Homo sapiens: one gene and its partners. The protein of the gene in region 4 purifies or fractionates together with the protein of the main gene of each other region. This does not show direct contact. Each region holds a gene or a part of one and is shown on either strand. Other genes may lie near its edges.

Region 1 (3,745 bases), on a different chromosome or scaffold from region 4:
TTAACCTCAAAGTGTAATGGTGATGATTAAATGATACAGTAAAGTCCTATTAAAACCTGTGACATAGTAAACACCCTTGTCTCACTCACTATGCCTTTTTGTCTCTGTCCCAGGTGGAAGAACTCCACTATTACTTTCCAGGAGCAGACAGACATTATCTGCTCATTAGGCTCAGCAGCTTGGTTCTAGTCTCAAAAGTCAACTGGGATCATGCTCACTGTGCCTAGAACAGAGAATGCAGAACATCAAGCCTAACACAGGACAGGATGTTGACATGCTGAGCAGCTTGTTGGGGGATCTCTAGGGAATTCGGATTCAATAGGTCTGAATGGGACCAGAGATTTTGAATTGTTAGAATCTAATATTTCTGTGAATTAAAAAGGGGCTCAGCCTAACTGTGAGCAATGTATTATCCAATGAGTGGCATGACAAGGAATGACAGGAAGACCCAGGACTGTCGACAGTTCTAGGCCTCTTCTCTCAAGGACGAAGGGCAGCCACTGCCCAGAACCATGGAGGGGGAATTGAAACCAATCCAAACTAGCACAAAAATGAATGTTTGGAGAGATCCCCTGCCCTGGATACATAATGTTCTCAGAGATAGAACAAACTTCCGAGATGATCCTGTGCACTCTACAGATGCAGCACATAGTGAATACAACTCTCGGGAACTTTCCAAGCACATGGAGGCCCATAAAACACCAACGCACCATAAATTTCCATGGTAAATCCTGCTGGGGGAATTCATTAACAGAAAAGTAGCAATCAAACACTGGAAAGGTAGGGCTTCAAAATTACCCACTCTGGAGATGTAGAAAGTGCCTAAAAATATGGTAGGTCCAGGAGCACCACACCAAGCATTTACATCTTTGAAATGGCCACATGGCACTTATTGGCCTGAAAGGAGAAACAGCCAGCAAAATATCCTGCTAGAGTTGGTGGGCAAAGGAAACAGGGGAGGGGTCCCTGAAGGCCCTTATGAATTTCTCAAAGTTTTTGTTCACCATTTTATCTTCAGAACCCTGCACGCTGATTGGCAAACACTATTACATTCATTAAGTATTTGTCAAATGCGTGAAAAAAACAGAGGGAGAGAAAGAGGGACAGAGACAGGAAGACAAAAAGAAATTATCTCAGGCGGGGCATGGTGGCTTACGCCTGTAATCCCAGCACTTTGGGAGGCCGAGGTGGGTGGATCACCTGAGGTCAGGAGTTCTAGACCAGCCTTGGCCAACAACATGGTGAAACCCCATCTCTACTAAAAATACAAAAATTGGCCAGGTGTGGTAGCGGGCGCCTGTAATCCCAGCTACTCGGGAGGCTGAGGCAGGAGAATCACTTGAACCCAGGAGGCAGAGGTTGCAGTGAGCCAAGATCATGCCACTGCACTCCAGCCTGGGCAACAAGGGCAAAACTGTATCTCAAAAAAAAAAGAAAAAAGAAAAAAAGAAATTATCTTTGCTCCTACAGACTAGGCAGGCTACTGAGTATAGTATGTCTCACCCAAAAGTGATGGAAACTGATTGCTACTACAGTAAAAGGAACATGAGCTTCTGAGTCAGGAATAACTGGATTCAGTCTCCAACTCTGAATGATCTTGGCCTAAGTTCTTGACTTCTTTCTTTGAGCCTCACCATTTCATCTTTAAAAAGGGTAACAACACCTATTTCACTTCCAAAATAGGCATGATACTTATGCTTACAAAGTTGTGGAAAAAAGATTACATGAGCTAATGGACTTAGGCAAAGTAGCTAGCACAATGGTCAGCACATGGTATGAGCCAAAATCCTCCTGGGCTACCCTAATTGTACTGCATAGTTCTTTCAGATGTCAAGCTGCAGAAATAATTCCAATTTAAGTTCACTGGATCTTCTAAGAAAGTATATTTTTATCCCAGCACTCTGGGAGGTCAAAGCAGGAGGATTGCTTGAACTCAGGGGTGTGAGACCAGCCTGGGCAACATGGCGAAACCCTGTCTCTACCAAAAATACAAAAAACTAGCCAGGCGTGGTGTTACACGCCTGCACTCCTAGCTACTTGGGAGGCTGGGGTGGGAGGATCACTTGGAGCCCAGGAAGTAGAGGTTGCAGTGAGCTGAGACTGTACCACTGCACTCTAGCCTAGGTGACAGAGCGAGACCCTGTCTCAAATAAATAAATAAACAAACATTTATTTAAATAATAAACTCACGTATATATTCTTTTTTAGTTAGCAAAGTAATTTCACATTCTGACATAACAGTTCTGAAAAACAATGCTTACTGTTATCCATGTTTAATAAATGAAAAAACTGGCCAGGCATGGTGGCTCATGCCTGTAATACCAGCACTTTGGGAGGCCAAGCCAGAAGGATCACTTGAGGCCAGGATTTTGAGACCAGCCTGGGCAACATAGTGAGACTCCATCTACACAAAAATTTTAAAAAATAAAAAATTAGCTGGGCACGGTGGTACACATCTCTAGTCCTAGCCACTAGGGAGGCTGAGACAGGAAGATAGCTTACGCCTAGGACTTTGAGGCTGCGGTGAGCCATGATCATACTATTGCACTCCAGGCTGGGCAACGGAGCAAGATCCTGTCTCAAAAAAAGAGAGAGAAAATACTAAGACCACAAAGCCAACAAGAGGCAGACTGGGAATGAAACTATAGATTTTAACATTTTATTATAATTACTATGATTTTCTCAATCAAAAATTCAAATAGGAGATCTTATTATAGAATACTTGAACTCAGACTGTTCCAGAAATCTACTTATATTACGCTAAAACTTATAGCTAAAATCGAAACAAAATCCTGAAAGAAGTGATTTTTTAAAACAAAGCCTTTCCTCTGGATTTTATGCATCTATTCTTAATAGTCTCAAGTAGGAGAAGAGGAACATGTTTTAGAGTAAGGCTGACCTGAGTTTCAGTAGCATCTCTACCATCTATTAGCTTTGTGACCCTGGATATCCACTTTCTTCACCCCACTAAATTTCAATATCTTCATCTATGTAATGGGAAAGCAATACCTCCTCAAAAGTCTATGTGAAGTTCCTGGCCCTGAGAAGATGATTAGTAAATGATTAACTACCGTAAAAATCATGCCATGGTACCGACCACTTGGTCTGTAGGTTAGGTGACGGCTTGTTTCTTTCCTGCCTTCTCCAGCATCTGCATACCCCCTTTTCTGCATCTGTTCAATGGGGACACAAACCAGTCTCTATCGAACCTCACCAGGGAATGAAGATAACAAAAGAGCTGGCAGAGACATTATGCTAATACCAAATATTATTAAAACATTAATGAACTCTGGCAATTTCCCTGAATTTTGATAAATGGTGTTTATTATGCACTGCCAGCCTTTCGCACAGTCTGGGCTCTCAAATATTAACTAGATAATAACACCAATCATTCTCCTAAAAGACCAAGGTACAGAGGAATAAGAAGTGAATCTAGACAATTGCAGCTAACACCTGCCTCCAAAAAAAAATCAGAATCTCTGTACAAACAGAGAGCATCAGGACAGACCCCAGAGACCACAGTGACCACCAGCAAGCTCAGATCAACCCCACAGCCTGTGCAGAACCCTACTTTGATAAGACAGTGGAGTGTCTTGGTGTTGACAGGTCATTGATTATGACAGCTGTCTACCACCTCCTTGCTCTTCAGTGTAAAATTCCTCCAAACTAGACAAAATGAAAAGGATCTGTGAAGCTGGAGGGGCTTCAGACTTGGCTAACAATCTTACACAAAAAGAGAGTAACA
Region 2 (3,745 bases), on a different chromosome or scaffold from region 4:
ATTATGGTTAAATGAAGTCATAAAGTGGGAACCTAATCCAATAGAATTGGTGTCCTTATAAGAGGAAGAGACACCAGGAATGTGCATGCATAGCACAAAAGCCATGTGAGACCAGAAGAAGGCAGCTGTCGGCAAACCAGGAAAAGATTCTCACCAGAAACCAAACCTGCCAGCATCTTTATGTCGGATTTCCAGCCTCCAAGAACTGTAAAATATTCTGCTGTTTAAGCCACGTAGTCAGTGGTATTCTGTTATGGCAGGCCAAGGTGAATAATATAATGACCAAAATCTATGTGTCCCGGTTCCTATGAATGATGGAATGCTAAGCAGAACCTACACCACTGCTAGAACAAAGATACCTACAAGAGACATTCCCCCTGCTTCCGGAAAACTGAACCCCACATTTAACAGAAAGAATGGCAGAAAACATTATTCTCACACCGTGACATATACATTTAAAGAAAAAAAATGGATCTTCAAGAACACAAACACCAAAATTATTAGTATCAATCACCATCTGTAGCAATTCAATCAGATGGAAAAGGTAGTAGAGTTACATAAAGAATGTAAAGAGTAAAAGTGAGTTTGTTGAAGGTAAAAAACAATAAAAATTAAAAATTAAAAAAAGGCTGGGCACGGTAGCTCACACCTGTAATCCCAGCACTTTGGGAGGCCAAGGCAGGTGGATCGCTTGAAGCCAGAAGTTTGAGATTAGCCTGGTCAACGAGTGAGATTCTCATCTCTATAAAAAAATTTAAAAAATTATCTGGGCATGATGGCACTCGCCTGTAATCCCAGATACTCAGGTGACTGAGGCAAAAGAATCACTTGAACCCGGGAGGTGGAGCTTGCATGAGCCGAGATTGCGCCACTGCACTCCAGCCTGGGCAACAGAGCAAGACTGTCTCAAAAAAAAAAAGAATGTAAAGAACACACATCAAAAGGAAATTTTCTGCGGGGCTTAGAATAACATTATAGACTCATCTTCCCAGTTTCTGCACTTTAATATCTCCTGTTAAGTTGCTACATGCCTATGGTCATCTTCCTCACACAGATTGTGAAGACAATGGCAGAGACCATGTCATGGGGTGGGAGCAACTGCTTTGATCACTAACAGTGGCTGGGATAATGTTCTATTCCAGGTACACTCCTCATAATTTCTGGAAAATTATCATTATAGACAACTGACCCACCTTCTAATCATTCAGTATCACTAGATTCTCAACAGAACAACTGATTGGTCTACAAGCCCTCTCTCAAACACAATTCCTCATGTTGAGCTTCACAATTATTATCTTGGAGACTCAGAAAATGATTCAGCACATGAGCTTGCTAACTCAGCAGTCTGACGCATTAGCAAAAGCCAAAATTTTTTTGATAAACAAAAAACATTTTGGTAGAATTTAAATAAAATCAACCGAGTATTCACAGCTATTATGATTTCCAAACAGGTCATTTTAAGAAACTTAGAAAATTGGCTGGGCGCGGTGGCTCATGCCTGTAATCCCAGCACTTTGGGAGGCCGAGGCAGGCGGATCATGAGGTCAGGAGATCGAGACCATCCTGGCTAACACGGTGAAACCCCGTCTCTCCTAAAAATACAAAAATGTTAGCCAGGCATGGTGGCGGGCGCCTGTAGTCCCAGCTACTCAGGAGGCTGAGGCAGGAGAATGGCGTGAACCCGGGAGGTGGAGCTTGCAGTGAGCTGAGATCGTGCCACTGCACTCCAGCCTGGGGAACAGAGCAAGACTCCGTCTCAAAAAAAGAAAAAAAAGAAACTTAGAAAATTGAGAAGCTGACCAAATTCTATGCCCACTTTGCTTTTTCTGCAGTACCCAGAAAAGGACACAAATCCTCTAAATAATTCTTTCACAAACAGCTTACAATGTTACTGTTTGAAATTTACTTTGGATGCTGAATAACACAAATGTAATCATTCAAAATATGCTCATGGTCTGAACTTTGTTTTTTTTTGTTTTGTTTTTTTTTTTTTTTGAGACAGGGTCTCACTCTGTTGCCAGGCTGAAGTCCAGTGGCACGATCTCAGCTCACTGCAACCTCCGCCTCCTGCCTCCTGGATTCAAGCGATTCCCCTGCCTCAGCTTCCCGAGTAGCTGAGACTACAGGTGCACGCCGCCACGCCTGGCTAATTTTGTGTATTTTAGTAGAGATGGGGTTTCACCATATTGGCCAGGATGGTCTCGATCTCCTGACCTCGTGATCCACCTGCCTCGGCCTCCCAAGGTGCTGGGATTACAGGCGTGAGCCACTGTGCCTGTCCCATGGTCTGAACTTGTAAATATCAGGTTATAAAGTGAGATCGGTGTTAGATTCATATAAAAAAAATTTTTTTTTAAGAGACAAGGTCTTGCTCTGTCACCCAAGCTGGAGTGCAGTGGCGTAATCACAGCTGACTGCAGCCTGGAACTCCTGGGCTCAAGTGATTCTTCCACCTCAGCCTCCCAAGTAGCTAGGACTACAGCCACGTGCCACCACAACCAGCTAATTTTTTTTTAATATTTTTTGTAGAGAGGGGGTCTTGCTAGGTTGCTCAGGCTGGTCTCAAACTCCTGGCCTCAAGCAATCTTCCCACCTTGGTGTCCCAAAGCGCTGGGATTATAGGTGTGAGCCGCTACGTCCAGCCCGTATCGAACTCTTGACCACACTTGGGACTCAACAATTAACTGTTATTATTTCAAAGTATTTAATAAATCTCTGAACTTTTTTCTATTAAGTCTAATGTTTGATACTGAAAAAGCTAAAGTCATTGGAGAGTTTTTACTTGTACACTTGTTTTTCAAATAAAAATTAAACCGAAGGGAAAGAAACTACAAATACAAACGGGTCTGGCCCCTCATGCATATATACATACACACAGGGTTTTTATTCTTAACATCAGTTACCTTCTGCCCTTCTCACAAAGCTTCTCAATTTCAGCTTTCAGATCCTGCTCCTTCTGCAAAAACTCCTTCTTCTCTTTCTCTATCTTCTTCTTTGTTTCTTCCCGCTTTATTGTCACATCCTGAATAGCCTTTAATATCTCCTGAGTTCCACACAATTACAGTCGCACACAAATAAAAAAGAAAATAAGTTAGTTCTTTTGATGCAAAGGTTATTTTCAACTATCACAAATTCACGTATTGACTTTAGTGAATTCAAATTGAATTGAAAGAATGTGGTTGATGAGTAGCTCCAAAAGCCAGTATTCAGACCTAAAGGAGAAAGTTATAGTAATGCAGATTTCAACTCAACAGGAAAAATAATTTCTAGCAATCGCAATTGTTCAAAAATGAAATATACTGCCTTGTGAAGCAGTAAGCTCTTCATTACTGGTGTTCAAATAAAGGCTGAATGAACACCTGTCAAGAATGCTGAGAAAGGTGTTCTTGTACCAGGGAGGGTCTGTTACATCCAACAAATATTGTCTTGTTTCATTTTGTTGTGATTCTACTTTATTATGTATGGGTTTTGTTTGTTTTACTCTTTAACAACAACAAATACATACATATATACACACACACATATACACACAGATATACATATGTACAAACGCACACTTTTTTTTTTTTTTAAATAAGAAGTCAAACAGGCCAGGCACAGTAGCTCATGCCTATAATCCTTGTACTTTGGGAACCCAAGGCAGGAGGATCACTGTGTCCGGGAGTTCGAGTCCAGCCTAGGCAACATACAGAGATCTTGTCTCACAAAAAATAAAAAAAATTAGCCAGGTGTGGTGGCACATGCC
Region 3 (3,745 bases), on a different chromosome or scaffold from region 4:
TAAAATGCTATTTTAACTAACCTTCTTTTCCCCTCTTTCCAGAATAGTTGTAATGTCTTCATCTGTCAACTCACTCTCTTTAGAAGCAAAAACATGGGTGGCTCCATGCCGTATCATTTGTAACATTTCCTCTTTTGCCAGCTTGTTAGACTGTTGGTCAATGAGTCTTCCTAATGATAAAAATTGAAATTGTACATATTCAATCAATCATATTCCAAAGAAGGCATAATCATTCTAATCAGACATTATCACATTTAACCACACATAAAGCTTTAAAGAACAAAAAATTAGTGAGCATTAAGGTTATTTGTTTAATAAACCCTACAAGTTTTTCTTCTAGCATACTTTCTATTTCTATATAAATTCCCTTCTGTAAAACTCAGTTAAAACCCAGAAGGACAGAAACTTTTTTTCATGTTCAAACTCTGTTTTCAGATCAAACTTCTCTATATGAAAAGGTACCCTCTAATATGTTTTCAAAAATTTAAAAGTAGCCATTTTATCTGCTAAATAATCTCAGGTACTTCAAAAAGCATGCTACTGACATTCAAGAATAAGCTAGTGATGTTCAACTACTCCATATATCAAATGCCAGGGTTTCAATTCAGAAGATTTCAATTAGCATTTTTTGTTCGTTTGTTTGTTTGTTTGTTTGTTTTTGAGACAGTGTCTTGCTCTGTCGCCCAAGGCGGAGTGCAGTGGCGCGATCTCGGCTCACTGCAACCTCCACCTCCCAGGTTCAAGCAATTCTCCTGCCTCAGCCTCCTGAGTAGCTGGGACTACTGGTGCACGCCACCACACCCGGCTAATTTTTTGTATTTTTAGTAGAGACAGGGATTCACCATGTTGGCCAGGCTGGTCTCAAACTCCTGATCTCAGGTGATCCACCCGCCTCGGCCTCCCAAAGTGCTGGGATTACAGGCATGACCTACCTCACCCAGCCTCAATTAGCATTTTTAAATTTTTTCCTTTTATTTTTAGGTGATACATAACAATTGTACAGACTCATGGGATACACAGTGATGTTTCAATTTTTCCTCTAAGTTTTCAAATTTTGGTCAACTTTTATTAAAAGTAATCTCCTTTGAAGAAAACTACATGTGTTTTACAAAAAACACCTAATTAAGTTTCTATGTATAAATACCTTGTTGTATAACAATTGAATCGAGTCTCAGTTTTATCTCAGCTCTTTCTACAATCCTCTCTTCAACAGTGTTGTCAGTGATGAGACGGAATACACGTACTGGTTTCTTCTGACCAATACGATGTGCTCGATCCTAGTAGAAAGAGTTCTAATGTAAGATATTGGATATTCTGGATAAAATTTAGAGCCATCATATGCTATAAAATTCTAAAAATAAAATTAGTTATTTTTCTCTAGATCTGACACTTTGGAAAAGAGCATGATGAATATTGAGAATATCTAAAGACCACTGGGAACAAAGAAATCTGCAAATATTATATTGTACCATTAATGGGAAACTTCCAGGACAAAGGGCAAAGCACCTGTAAGATGAATAAAAGAGGGAGCTGAAAGTTTCTGGATTGAGTTACTAAGTAACTTTAAGCCACTAAATATAAACATCTTCGAAACTAGCAAGGAATTTTATTAAGTAGTTAGGGTTGCTATGGTGGCAAAAGTCTGCTTTATTTCATCATCAGGCACTTCTTTCTGCTTACTGAGGGATATGCAGTAAAGAGTTATAAAAATTAATGGGATATTACTATCCTTACTATTCAGTAGCCTAGGACTGGTCCTATGGTTTATAGTTGGTACAGGTGACAGGTGGCGAACTTCTAGTGGTATAAAACCATCTAGGGAGAGTATTTTTAAAACACAGAAGCTGCTAGAGCAAATAGGTAAAGGGAGGAGGGTGGTAGAGAAAAAAAAAATGTAAGTTCAAAACAGGCCTTGTACTAAATATAAAAACACTAGAGCCTAGTAACAAAGTTTCAACACAGCACATTTTTCAAACAGAATGCAATCCCCTGCACATATTTACATTAAACCTGAACCAGCAAATCCTGAAAGATGGGATGCACACTAAGACTTCTACGGAAATGAAGTGCTATCACTATTAGATTTTCCAGTTCAGTAACACTGTAACTTACTGGGGCTTACTCCTAGTTAGTCATATCAAACAGGTAGTTCAATACCATCGTAATGCAATAATAATTACGCCAAAGCATATTGATTTTGGAATGTCCCAGTGGTCAATCCCTTTCAATTCTCTATTATAAAAGGAAAGCCTTCTAAGTTATACCTCATTGGCATATGACTTTTCATTGCTCCCAAAAAGACACTTATCCATAGCTATATATTCAAAACCTAAGAAGTTATTTTGCATCTTTTTACTTCTAAATTATATTTCTTTATCTGAAAATGTGAGTCACATTGAGAGAAGTTGTAGCTCTAGTTCAATAAATGACACCAAAATATCAAAGGGGTTACCTGTAGTGTCATGATGAAAGGTCAGAGAAACTTTGCTCCCTAAAAAAAAATGTTTTTAAGTGTAGAATAGCTTTTGCATGGTATCATTATTAAGTAGCAAGTGTTTTTCTGGAATATATTCCTTTCTTACCTTTTTGCCTTCTCTCCCAAATTGTTTTTTATGAAAGTTAAAATCCTACCTCTCTTAATTTCAGTACTAAGGATTTTAATATATTTAGTTGTTGAACAGAATAATAACAAGAGATTGTTTTTTAATCCTTTTCATTAAAACAAATTTATGTGTCCTCTTCAATCTGTAGGAATGGGAAAAAACTGACATTTCTATTTCATGAAAAAAACCAAAATCAACACATAAATGCTATAAGTTGGATCTGGGGTGTGTTTGTTGTTCGCTTTCATTTCTTTTGTTTTTGCAATTAGCATAGCAACTGTGTTTTCCAGGATAATCTACTGTAACTTCTATAAAATCTCTCAAAAATTGTTACCTTTTTATCATAAATGACCTTTATGTGTGTAAATAGCAATAGTATTCAGAGCTATGATAAATTTCTGACACCATTAAAGATTACTAACCATAGCTTGTAGATCAACCTGTGGGTTCCAGTCTGAATCATATAGTATAACCACATCAGCACTTGCCAGGTTAATTCCGAGACCTCCAGCCCTGGTACTTAGCATAAAGATGAATTTGCTACTATTAGGAGCATTAAAAGCCTCTATTGCTTCCTTTATTTTTTATTGATAAAGGGATAGAAGAAAAAGAGAAAAATAAAATTAGACCATCAGGGTCCTTAAGAAACAAATAAAAACATTTAAAATACATATAGAAAATCTTCACACACTTTATAATATTCCTTATAAATATACTTTATAATATTCTTCCATCTTCAAAAATATGTAAGCATCTATACATATACTGTACTGTGTGAATTTCTGTAGAAAGTATATTATATAAATGAAGTTCCTAATCTTTAAAAGCTTACATCGATAGATACAAATTTAGAACAATTACATACACAAATTTAACTAAGCAAGTAATAATTCATTTACATTATTTAAAAACAATAATAATGAAAACGTTTTGAGTGAGAGCTGAAATATATCTAGGAGGTAAAATATCAGAAATCTCAACTTCATTTCCATTAGCTTATGAATGATTAGTTTAGAAGATCAACCAACAGAGAAAATGGTTTACAAATGGGAATGAGGGCAACGGATAAAGGGGAAAGTAAGAAGATTTCTATCAGTATGGTAACAAGGAACAAGCAGGTAAGTAATGAAGAAAATCAGGAT
Region 4 (3,170 bases):
AGGGTCTGAGGGTTGGGGCTGTAAAGACAGCCCTTTCATCAGGAAGCTGGAGCTGAAAAGCCCTAATACCCCTAATCCCCAAACTCTTGGATCCCGTCCCACAGACGAGAGTCCCTGCTCGGCATCCTCCAGCACAGGTGCTCTGGGTGGGTCCCAGGCCCAGGCACTAGAGAAGGAAAGGGTTGGTTGTGCCAGTGGCCTGGGCTGCTGATGGGGGTATACCCACACTGCCCACCATGTTCATCATTGCAGGGCCCAGTGGTGTCAGAGAGGAACCAGTGGCCCCCAGAGCTGGCTGTGGGGCCGCGGAGGTCATCGAGGCCACAGCCATGGACTCCACTCCTGGGCCAGGCCCAAAGGATGTGCTGGTCCCCAGGACTGGGCTCCCCCGAAGCTGGTTCAGTGTCAGCGGCTGGGGCTGGTTCACCTGGAAAGGGTTAACAGGGGCCGAGGTGGCGGGAGCACCTGGGGAGACAGAAGGAGGGGCAGAGGCTGAGCCGTCAGGGTGTGGCTTTCTGAGCTCCCAGGTCAGGGACTGCATGCGGGTGTTCTGGTCCCTGCTGTGCCCTCAGAGCCCGTGACAGTGCCGGCCGAGTCCATGGCAGACACTAGCAAATATCTGCTGACTGCATGAATCTGCACTTTAAGGATGAGGAGATTGAGGCTGTGAGAAGCCAAGTGATTTGTCCAGCGTCACAAAGCTGAACAAGGCCATGCCAGGAACACACCCATCTCGGGGCACCCTGGCTCCTCTGCAGTGCTGGCACCCAGGACACCTTCACCAGCCATCAGCTACCACTGCTCCCTCATTTTGTTTGCTGAAAGGGACATGGGACTGGCAGTGTGTGGCTCATGTGGCAGTGCCCACAATGCACCCAGGGATCCACATATGACACCGCGAAGGCTAGAAATCCTGCAGTCAAGAAGTTGATGCAGCTTTGTCTTTCCCAGTGTCTCCAGAATTTACCTCATACCAGAAAGCCTTTTCTTTGCAAAAGTGTGTGCGCTGCTGGCACCAACTCTCCCATGCAGCCTGGCCCTACCCTGTGTGGCCTGGAGAATGGCCCTGTATGTCCAGCAGAGTTGCCCAAACCTCCTCCATCTTGGCTGCAGCCCCCAGGAACCATGACTGGTGTGCAGCCAACAAAGCTGCCTCAGGCCTCCAGCCAGGTGCCCACCAAGAGCTGACAGACACAGATGACCACTGGAGCTCCTGCAGGGCCTTCAAGGGCTCTCTGGGCAGAAGAGGCATAAGGCCTCCTGGGGCAGACACAGACTCCTGGCTGGCTGAGGAGGCTGGAAACTAATCTAGTTCCACCCAGGGAACCACCTCCCCTGGGGGCAGCCATGTCCTCACCCATCTCAGGACCTCAGGGTTGGCCAGGACCCAGTAACTCCACACACCTCACCTCTGCCCAAGGGTCCCCAACCTCAGCCTCTGTAAGTTCAGTGGTAATTCTCCTCTGCAAGGTACTGTCAGGGACGGTGGCCCAAGATCCTCAGATCCCTACATGGTGGGGCCAGCCTGGGGCTGAACACCTGAGGGTGACACATTCCTGCCCTGGGGGAAGCCCAAGGCTTTGGGGAAACCCCGTGAGGAAGGGGGCTGGGTGGACTTCCTAGAAGGGAGTCATCTGAGCTAGGTGTCAAAGGATGAGGAAGATGCTTTCATTAGGGAAGAGGAGGGAGGACATTCCAGGCAGGGGAAACTGAGTGTGTAACAGCCTGGGCTTAAGGAAGGGCTCTACAGGCTGAGGGGCGCCAAGGGGCTGGATGTCACAAGGGTTTCATGCACACAGGAAGGGAAGAGGAGGGTGGGACCAGGCCATAATGGCCCTGGATACCCAATTGAACAGCTGGGGGCTTGGCCGGCAGCCAACATTGAGCCCTGAGGGCAGGGGGCAGACTCTGGCACCAGGAGTGGAAGCAAGGGACCTGGAGGAAGGCTTGTACCCAAGGGCTAAGTTACATTTTTCCCGAGAGAGGAATGCTACACGCCAAACCCTGGCTCTTCCTCACCCCCAGCAGCCCACCCTACTCCACCTGTCTTAGAACTGACATTCCCTCGAGGGTCTCACAACTGGGGGGGCACCAAGTCAGGGACAGTTTCTGCTTGGTAGTCTCAACTGAGAGGAGAGGAGCTATTTCCTACCCATACACTCCCCACATAACTGACAACGGCTTCCACACCCCACCCCATGCAGCACTGGCGAGGGCATACGTAATCATCTAGAGATTCCAGCTAGTCCCACCCCTTCCCCGTCACACAGTGGGAAGAGCCCCCAAGAGGCCTGCTGCACACCCATTCCCAGGCACAGCAGGCAATGGATGAAGCCTGGGATGAGAGCCTACCTGGTGCCAGGAAAGGGTTGAGGGACTGGGCTGGTGGGGCAGGCCTGGTCACCAGTGAGTCCAGGTTCACCAGGGCCGCGTTGGGGCCCAGGAAGGACTCAGGTGTTTTCCGGGCACTGCTGGGCTTGCTTGAGGCGACAGTCAGGGGTTGAGACTCAAAGGGGTCAGGGCTGGTAGTTCCATTGTTTTGGGATGGCAGAGAGGTCACAGATTCGGCTACAAGACAAGGACACATATGGCAGGGTGAGTGTGGCAGGGAGAGCCTAAGACTGTGTACTTAACACAAAACATGGCCTCCTGGGGACATGCCTGCCTGACAGCGCCACGTGACGACACACAGCCAGTCATGGGCTGGGTTAGATAAATCAAGTGTCCACATAACGAAACACCAGCATGCAGGAACAGAAGAATACCTAATGATAAGCAAAGAAAGCTTTATCAAAATACTAAAGCAGGTTATAAAAGAGTGTGTATAGCTCATTCCTCCAGAATACCAAGATGTCATTTTGGGTTGGAAGCTAGGCATGGGCAATTTACTTTTTTTTTTTTTTCTTACATTTTCCATTTACTAAATTTTCCACAATAAACATGAACTTCTTGATAGTAAAAAGAAAGCAAATTGTGTCTTTTAAAATTCAGCCCATAGAGGCAACACAGGCTGTGCTGAGCCAGGCCGGTAGGAATGTGATTGCCACGACGGGATGCTTCACGGTACAGGAATTCTTAACAACAGTCATTCTCTCACTTAGTAACCCCATTTCTAGGAATCTGGTCTAAGCAAATAATGTAAAATGTGAACAAGGTTATAAGCACAAAGA

The links.
Region 1: the proteins of EPN2 (region 4) and MB21D2 fractionate together in Homo sapiens (co-fractionation; one large-scale study listed by BioGRID). This does not show direct contact.
Region 2: the proteins of EPN2 (region 4) and RNF214 fractionate together in Homo sapiens (co-fractionation; one large-scale study listed by BioGRID). This does not show direct contact.
Region 3: the proteins of EPN2 (region 4) and SMARCA1 purify together in Homo sapiens (affinity purification with mass spectrometry; one large-scale study listed by BioGRID and IntAct). This does not show direct contact.

Annotation. Positions count from the first base shown.
Region 1 is NC_000003.12:192,911,251-192,914,995, forward strand, and holds part of MB21D2 (nucleotidyltransferase MB21D2), read right to left. Parts: intron 1-3,745. UniProt on the Homo sapiens protein: Probable nucleotidyltransferase that catalyzes the formation of cyclic dinucleotide second messenger in response to some unknown stimulus.
Region 2 is NC_000011.10:117,246,107-117,249,851, reverse strand, and holds part of RNF214 (RING finger protein 214), read right to left. Parts: intron 3,044-3,745; coding exon 2,904-3,043; intron 1-2,903.
Region 3 is NC_000023.11:129,488,916-129,492,660, forward strand, and holds part of SMARCA1 (SWI/SNF-related matrix-associated actin-dependent regulator of chromatin subfamily A member 1), read right to left. Parts: intron 3,179-3,745; coding exon 3,026-3,178; intron 1,278-3,025; coding exon 1,145-1,277; intron 171-1,144; coding exon 22-170; intron 1-21.
Region 4 is NC_000017.11:19,331,251-19,334,420, reverse strand, and holds part of EPN2 (epsin-2), read right to left. Parts: intron 2,569-3,170; coding exon 2,353-2,568; intron 466-2,352; coding exon 167-465; 3' UTR 1-166. UniProt on the Homo sapiens protein: Plays a role in the formation of clathrin-coated invaginations and endocytosis.